Linked DNA regions of Homo sapiens: region 1 is linked to region 2. Evidence: fine-mapped expression QTL. A gene starts in region 2. The other region holds a variant in brackets. All regions are shown on one strand. Distances are from middle to middle. Region 1 overlaps CDH23 (cadherin related 23). Region 2 holds the start of VSIR (V-set immunoregulatory receptor).

Region 1 (4,000 bases), 27 kb after region 2:
CACTAGGGACGTCCCTCCCTGCTGCTGCTGGGGAGGGGCAGGCTGCTGGAGCCGCCCTCTGAGTTGCCCGGGATGGTAGTGCCTCTGATGCCAGCCCTGGTGGCTGTGGGCTGGGGTGCATGGGAGAGCTGGGTGCGAGAACATGGCGCCTCCAGGGGGCGGGAGGAGCACTAGGGGCTGGGGCAGGAGGCTCCTGGAGCGCTGGATTCGTGGCACAGTCTGAGGCCCTGAGAGGGAAATCCATGCTTTTAAGAACTAATTCATTGTTAGGAGATCAATCAGGAATTAGGGGCCATCTTACCTATCTCCTGACATTCACAGTTTAATAGAGACTTCCTGCCTTTATTCCCTCCCAGGGAGAGGCTGAAGGAATGGAATTGAAAGCACCATTTGGAGGGTTTTGCTGACACAGCGGGGACTGCTCAGCACTCCCTAAAAACACACCATGGAGGCCACTGGTGACTGCTGGTGGGCAGGCTGGCCCTGCCTGGGGGAGTCCGTGGCGATGGGCGCTGGGGTGGAGGTGCAGGAGCCCCAGGACCTGCTTTTCAAAAGACTTCTGCCTGACCAGAGCTCCCACTACATGCAGTGGCCCAGGGCAGAGGGGCTGATACATGGCCTTTTTCAGGGGGTGCTCCTCGCGGGGTGGACTTGGGAGTGTGCAGTGGGACAGGGGGCTGCAGGGGTCCTGCCACCACCGAGCACCAACTTGGCCCCTGGGGTCCTGCCTCATGAATGAGGCCTTCCCCAGGGCTGGCCTGACTGTGCTGGGGGCTGGGTTAACGTTTTCTCAGGGAACCACAATGCACGAAAGAGGAACTGGGGTTGCTAACCAGGATGCTGGGAACAAAGGCCTCTTGAAGCCCAGCCACAGCCCAGCTGAGCATGAGGCCCAGCCCATAGACGGCACAGGCCACCTGGCCCATTCCCTGGGCATTCCCTGCTTTGCATTGCTGCTTCTCTTCACCCCATGGAGGCTATGTCACCCTAACTATCCTGGAATGTGTTGAGAGGGATTCTGAATGATCAATATAGCTTGGTGAGACAGTGCCGAGATAGATAGCCATGTCTGCCTTGGGCACGGGAGAGGGAAGTGGCAGCATGCATGCTGTTTCTTGGCCTTTTCTGTTAGAATACTTGGTGCTTTCCAACACACTTTCACATGTGTTGTAACTTGTTTGATCCACCCCCTTCCCTGAAAATCCTGGGAGGTTTTATTGCTGCCATTTAACACAGAGGGCAATAGAGGTTCTGAAAGGTCTGTGTCTTGTCAAAACAAGTAAACGGTGGAACTACGACTAAACCCTGGGTCTCCTGCTTCCTCCTCACTGAATGGATTGGTATTATGGGCCAGGGCCTGGCTTGGCCTTCACCTTGGACTTGCTTAGAGCACATACAAGGGCTCTGGGAGATGAACTTGTGCCCACAGGTCCAGGGCTCCACTGTACTGCACACCAGAAACGTTCCTATCTGTGCTCTGCCTGCCCTGGCCTGGGCCTTCTTCTGGGTCCAGAAGACGCTGCTGCTGATGGGTAGGCTCCTTCCATATCAGCTCCTGCCACTCCCTTTTCTGCCTGCCAACTGTGGAGCTAGAGGACTCCTGATAGGCACAGTGGCCCATGCACCCCTCTTGCTTGCATTAGGGGATGGGGAAGGGAGAAACCCTCAGCAGCTGAGCCCCAGGGTCTCTTGGAGGAACTTAGCCAGTTGTATGTGGAGCATCTGGGCAGCTGTGGAACATCCCTCAAGAAGCCAGGCCAAGGGAAGGGTCTGGATGTACTTGTGCTGGGTCAGGGAAGGCCAGCCTTCTTGGTGCCACAGAGGGTGAGGGCCAGGCTGGGACCTTCTGATCTCAAGCCAGGGGAAGCAGAGTTCACAATAGCAGGGTCCAAGTCTAATAAACAGAAGGGGCCTCTGCTCTAAAGACATGAGGTGTACTGCCAAGAGCAGTGTCCCCAGCTCATAGACCGTCACGGGGCCGCTGCTGGGGACTTGCATACCAGAAGGGGGCGGTGGGAGATTTCTGTCCTTCTGCCTGGATAGGTGACTTCTGCAGGTCCTCACCAGCCTGAGAAGCCAGGGCTTCTTATCTGGAATAGTA[G/T]TATCGGTTGGCTGCAATTCACGTGGCAGGGAGGCCACAGTTAGGCCCTCCCTCCCTCTCCACCCCACTGCCAAGTGCCTCTGAGGTTGGGCTAACTCCTGACCTCCCAGTTACCTTCCGCCCTTCCTCCCTGGGCCCAGCTCTTCCTTTGCAGGGGCCTCCCTGACAACCACTTAAACCCCTCCCCCAAGCCTGGCCTGTCTTCCCATGGCCTGGAGCTAGGCAGGGGCTGAGGCTCCACAATGACTCCCCCGGCCAGTGGCACACCATTGTGTGGCGGGCCTGGGTCTGGCCCAGATACCCCTTGCAGCACAGCTGTTCCGAGTTCGGGTGATATGGGCTGAGGCCGGATGGGGGTGGCCTAGGCTGTTTGCAGGAATGTCCAGCTCTCAGGAACCTGGGGGGACGAGGGTCTCAGGGAGAAAAGTAGAGCTGGAGGGACTCAGAGAATTTCTCTTGGCTCTGGGGAGGGTCTTAGCAGCCAAATCTCAGGCCCCCTGCTTAGGGAGCCACATCTTTCAAAACAGGGATGCAAATGATGCTTCCTCCAGAAAACCTGCCCTGGCTTCCAGGCTCCTAGCACTCTACCACATCACAGTGTCAGCTCTCCAGTACATGTGCCTTCCCCTGCCAGACCGTAGGCTCCTGGAGGGCAGACCTGTGCCTGATGTATCTCTGGTGTCCTAGCCTGTACTACAGGCCTCACACATAACACATACTTGGTGTTGGATGAACAAATGAATGAATCTTTCATGCCCTTGTCCTCCAGCAAGGTTGGTCCTGAGCCAGTGAAGGCCATTTTGAAGCCAGGCAGATAACTGCAGTGGGAGTAAAAGGATGGCAAGTGGGCCTGCTGGCTTTCTCTGGATGGATCTATGCAGGGTAGCAGCTGCTGTCTCACCCATTAGACTGTGGCAGCCATTCCTGGAATCTCAGGGTGGTTGGCTGCATGCTGCTCAGGTCTCTGGTTGCTCTAGGAGGGGCTGGGACAATGCTCCTTCCTCATACACGCATCCAGTGAAATCTGCCCAGAGGCAGAGAAGGGCTCTGCTCTTGGGGATATTCATAACCCTGAGGGGTTTACTGCCCAAAGTTGAGGGTCTGGTCAGTGGAAGCAAATCTTCAAGGGTCCAGTGCTCCTTGGAGGCAAGCTACCCTGGTAGGCACTGTGGGCTGCAGGACCCCTGCTTGCTAGCTCTGCCCCATCCCCACCTTGGCTCGGCCAGGCATGGAGGCAGTAGAGGGGGGGTCTTGAGAAGGCAGCGGGAGCAGCTCTTATGGCGAGTCCCATATACACTGTCCCGGGAGGATATGGAAATAGAGAGTCCTGCCCTTGGCCTTGGAAGCAGCCCCGGGCCTAAACCACCTGTGGCTCCCAGAACCCATCCCTGATTATTGCTTGCTCTTCAGCCTTTGTGCAGGCTGAACCCCAGAATATGCTTCTTTCTTGGCTGTGCTAACCAAGACTGACCAACAAGACTCGGCCCAGGTGTCACCTCCTCCAGGAAGCCTTCCCCAAGCCCTTCTCAGTGCCCCATTGCACACCAGTGTTTTCATTGCCTCCCTTACTCAACTTCATTTCTTCAGGCCACAGACCACATTTTCTTCATTTCGGTATCTCCAGTGCCTGGCACATAGTGGCCATTCAGGGACAATGGCTGAATGAATGAATGAGTGAATGAGTGAATGAGTGAATGAATGAATAAATATGGTTTAGTGCTAGTTTCTCTATGTCCCTATGGTCACTGCAATTCTTCACTGAGGTGTCCCCTGCAAAAACCAAATGATAGCAATATTTTCCCAACTTGGAGAAGCAGGGGGAAAAATTGAAGATGGATGGATTCTTTTCGACTTAAAATTGTTTTCCTATACATCTTTCAAGTTGGTACCTGTTGCTGT
Region 2 (4,000 bases):
TGGGCAATGCCTGTGTCTCACCCTGATGCAACCCCAGGAGGCTCAGTGGTGGGCAGTGTGGTAGGGAGAAAGGAAGTGAAAAGGGGGGAGGGAACTGGGCCCAGCTCAGAGGCTCTATCCCCCTGGGGAAGGGGTTGGCAGGGCAATTGCTCCCCTTTCTCTAATTCCAGGCCCTCCCCGGCTGCTAGGCCCTGGGGAAGAGGGAGTCTGGTTTCAAGGGTGTCCTGAGCAAAGCCAGTCCAGGAAGGGTTGAGATGGGGTGGTGCTCTAGGATCTTGCCCTTAAGGGACCCCCCTCACTTGCCAGAGGATGTCAGGGTGAGAAGGGCCCGGTGTCCACCTGATCTCAGTTGGCTTTGTACCTCCCCTGGTGGAAGGGAGCTCATGCTATGCCAGCAGGAAGGGCCCTGGGCTGCCTTCCAAGGTGGGGTCACAAGGCCAGGAGCATGCCCAAGGACCTGGGTTATGTCCTGCCAGCCTCTGGGGCTCCCATCCTGGGGAGTTCACTGGCTCCAGGGGGACTGGGCCTGCACAAGTTCACTTAGTAATAACATGATGCCTCAGCCTTCCTCTGTTGTAGCCTTCCCTGCCCTTAGAGCAAGGGCTAAGGGCCTCCAGAGAGCCCGTGACTTGGATCAGGCCACCCACAAGGCCCCCAGGACTCCTGGCTCCCATTGAGTCCTGATACCCTGGTTCCTGACCCAGTCAGACTCTGAGTGTCCTCTGCCTCTCAGCCTAGGAGTCACCTATTAACCCAAGATCCCTAAAGTGCCAGAAAAACCCCTGGAAGCTTCAGCTAGACTGGGGTAAACTGAGTAAAATGGCTGTGCTCTTCCACTCCTGTGATCCCTGGTCCTGGCCACGATCACCTCTGCTCCTCCATCACACAATCACTCACTCACTCATTGGTTTGTCCATTCAGATAAAAGTGCAGTAAAACCTTCTCCACGCCCAGCTTTGTGCTAGGGTCTCAGAAACATCAGAGAGAGGTTTGTAGTTTCGCTCTGGAGGGCAGAACAGCCGGAAGAAGAACCAACTGCTGGTTATCTCAGGCTGGAGGTGGTAGCTGAAGGGGGTGTGGACAGTAAGGATTTGCCGGGAAAAAGGAAGGGTCAGGACATTTCGTGAAGTGGGAGGACTTGAGCTGAGCCCTGAGGGATGAGAAGAATTAGGAGGGGAGAGACATTCCAGTGGTGCCAGCAGTGCTGGGTGTGGGTGCAAGAGCAGAGGCACTAGAAGTTAGGGTGCATCAGAGTGTCCTGCAGATATCCAGGCACCAGGGAGGGAGGGCGGGTGCACAGCCAGGCGGACAGCTGAGGCCTCTGCCGGAGGGGAGCTTGCAGGATGTGCTGTGGGGCACGCCAACAGGTGTTGCCTGCATATCTGTGTGTGTCCCGGGGTAGGGATGTGCTGATCTTGGCGTGTAGTCCTGCACCTGTTCTGTGTGTGTGTGTGTGTGTGTGTGTGTGTGTGTGTGTGCGCGCGCGCATGCACTCAGGGTGCCTCAGGCTCTGAATCTACAGTTAAACTGGCTCCAGCTTGCCTAGCTCTTCACAATGTCAGATTTCATTCATTCACTCATTTACTCACTCATTCCACAGCTGGGAGTGCCTACCACATACCAAGCCCTGGTCTGGCTGGAGGATGTAGGGTACAAGTCTCTGTCCCCAGATCACTCAAAGGCTGGTGGCTGAGGGCAGATGCAAGCCATGGTAACGTCTATCACGCTGTTAGAGGTAGATCTACTTCTTAGGCTGCGCAGCAATAATAATTTCTCTCCAAAAGGACTGGGGGACGGTAGAACGGGCTTTAAACTGCCGATCAAGTGGAGCTGACTCGCTGGGACGCACGCTGGCTCCCCACCCACGGGGCCGGCCTCCGGGAAGCCCCTCCCACGCGGCCCTCGGAGAGGCAGTTCCCCCACACGGCCCCCCGGGGGCGCTGCGCGAAGGGGGCGGGTGCCTGGAGCACGGCGCTGGGGCCGCCCGCAGCGCTCACTCGCTCGCACTCAGTCGCGGGAGGCTTCCCCGCGCCGGCCGCGTCCCGCCCGCTCCCCGGCACCAGAAGTTCCTCTGCGCGTCCGACGGCGACATGGGCGTCCCCACGGCCCTGGAGGCCGGCAGCTGGCGCTGGGGATCCCTGCTCTTCGCTCTCTTCCTGGCTGCGTCCCTAGGTAAGGTCGGGGGAGGCGGGGCGCTGGGAAAAAGCTGGGAGAAGACAGCAGACTGGAGTGGGAACTGTGGGATGGGGGCGTCCTGGGGGCCCTCTCAGCCTGTGTGACCGTGCACCCCACTCCACCCACCGCCCAGAGGCTGCTGGGACCCCTAGGCAGGGTGCAGTGGCAACTGTGCCAAGTGCCCCAGCTAGGCATCGGGCACATCTGCATGCTCTGACAGCTGCCCAAGTGGCAGGCAGGGCTGTCCCCTGAGGGCTGCCTGTCCAGCCCTTCCCTGCCCAGAGAACCCAGGGCACAGGTAGCTTCTGCAAAGAAGGAGAGGCACAGGGTGGGGGCGGTCAGTGTGTTCTGGTGGATATCACTGGCTTTTGACAGCTGGCATCTTTCTGCCCCTCTAGTCTCAGGGCTCTAGTGTTGCAGAGGACACAGAGGGCGTGGTATGCTCAGCCAGTGCCCCATGCCCTGGTGAAACCCCTGGCTGAGCCTTGGTGGGCACTGGGCACTGGTCACGGTGGGTCCACTTTCAGACACAGAGGCAGCACTGCCCACCTGGTCCCTATTCTAAGGGTCTGATGGCCCAGGAATAAGTGGTCAGCTGATTCCTGCCATCCTAGCAAGGCTGCCACTCAGGGACCAGTGTGGAGTACTGGGGAGGATGTGGGACACTCTTCAGCTCAGCTATGAGCCCCTTCTGGGTCCCTGGATAAATTACGGCATCTCTCTGGCCTCAGTTTCCTCAGCTCAAACACAGAAGCCCACACAGGGAAGCACCATTTTCCCCTTCCAAAGTCCAGACTGTCAGCATGTTCAGATAGTATCCTGGCCCCAACACAGGGGCTCCCGGGCTGGGGGCAGAGGCCCTGGTACCCATGGCCTGGTTGCCTAGTTCTTGCCTGCCCAGAGCTGAAGAGGCTGGATCTCTTCAAAGAGCCTGTGGAACCAAACTTTATAGGGAGGGCCCAGGGAAAGTATGAGTCATGCAGGGACTCGGAGGGAGGCAGGAGGGAGGTGGAGGGCTTGGCACAGGGACCCAGTGGGCAGGATGGAATAGAAGGAGAGGGTGATAGGATAAGAGGGAGAGGAGGAGGCTGAACCTGGAAGATACCTTAGCAACCTGGGTGCCCACAGGCAGCTGGCTATCTCAGCACTTGGAGGCTGGCCTGGGCCTCTGAGGAGGAGGAGGGCTCCACATGTCACAGACACAGCTGCCCTAAGCCCCAGGGTGGATGCTTCTCAAGGTGACAGTCAGAGGGAGGAGGAGAATGGGAGGTGGAATGGACAGTCTCAGCACCAAGGCCATGGCTCATGGCAGGGCATGGCTTCCAGAAGGAACAGAGGATGGTGGCAGGCAGGCAAGCCAGCATCCCACCTGTCATGGGCCACCTGCCCTGCACTGCCCTCCCTGGTGGCCCTGTGAGACCCTTCCTGCTTTCTTGCCCACTTCCTGCCCTCACTTGGCTGGGCTGCCCTCTGTTCAGCAGCCCCAATTTGAGAAACATTTCTAGAGATCCAGGGCACAGGGACCCAGCTTGCAGAGCACCCAGTAGCAGAGAGGCCCCAAGAGGAGCTCAGGACGCCTTCCCCTATATTGCTTATATGGCCAGGGGCCTTTACTCCCAGAGGTCTTGGCTACTCAAACAACATGGTATACTAAAGGGTCATCTCTTCCTGGGCCCAGCACAGGGAGATGATTTAGGCTGGCTGCAGCTTTCCACTGAAAGGAGCCAGAAGCATTTGAATTGCTCTGGGACCTCAGGATTCTGAACTGTGACATGGACACACTATAATAGATATTCACCCAACTCCCTAGGACAGTGTGCACTGA

Evidence for each region. PIP is the estimated chance that this variant, and not a neighbour inherited with it, causes the effect. A credible set is the group of variants that fine-mapping cannot tell apart.
Region 1: its variant is the best candidate, but not a certain one, in a credible set for the expression of VSIR in pancreas (GTEx, PIP 0.54).

The regions. Positions count from the first base shown.
Region 1 is chr10:71,744,859-71,748,858 of GRCh38, reverse strand. The region is part of intron 38 of CDH23 (cadherin related 23); the gene reads right to left. It overlaps VSIR (V-set immunoregulatory receptor), which reads left to right. Exons shown (of 7, transcript NM_022153.2): 7 at 1-1,303. Among named protein-coding and RNA genes, the nearest start is that of VSIR, 27 kb to the left of the region's middle. RefSeq lists enhancers at 1-16, 217-266, 652-861. The variant G/T (reference allele first, on the strand shown) is at 2,102.
Region 2 is chr10:71,771,530-71,775,529 of GRCh38, reverse strand. It overlaps VSIR (V-set immunoregulatory receptor), which reads left to right and starts at 2,010. Exons shown (of 7, transcript NM_022153.2): 1 at 2,010-2,172. The coding sequence starts at 2,091. All of the region lies in intron 38 of CDH23 (cadherin related 23), which reads right to left. RefSeq lists silencers at 1,781-2,110, 2,131-2,210.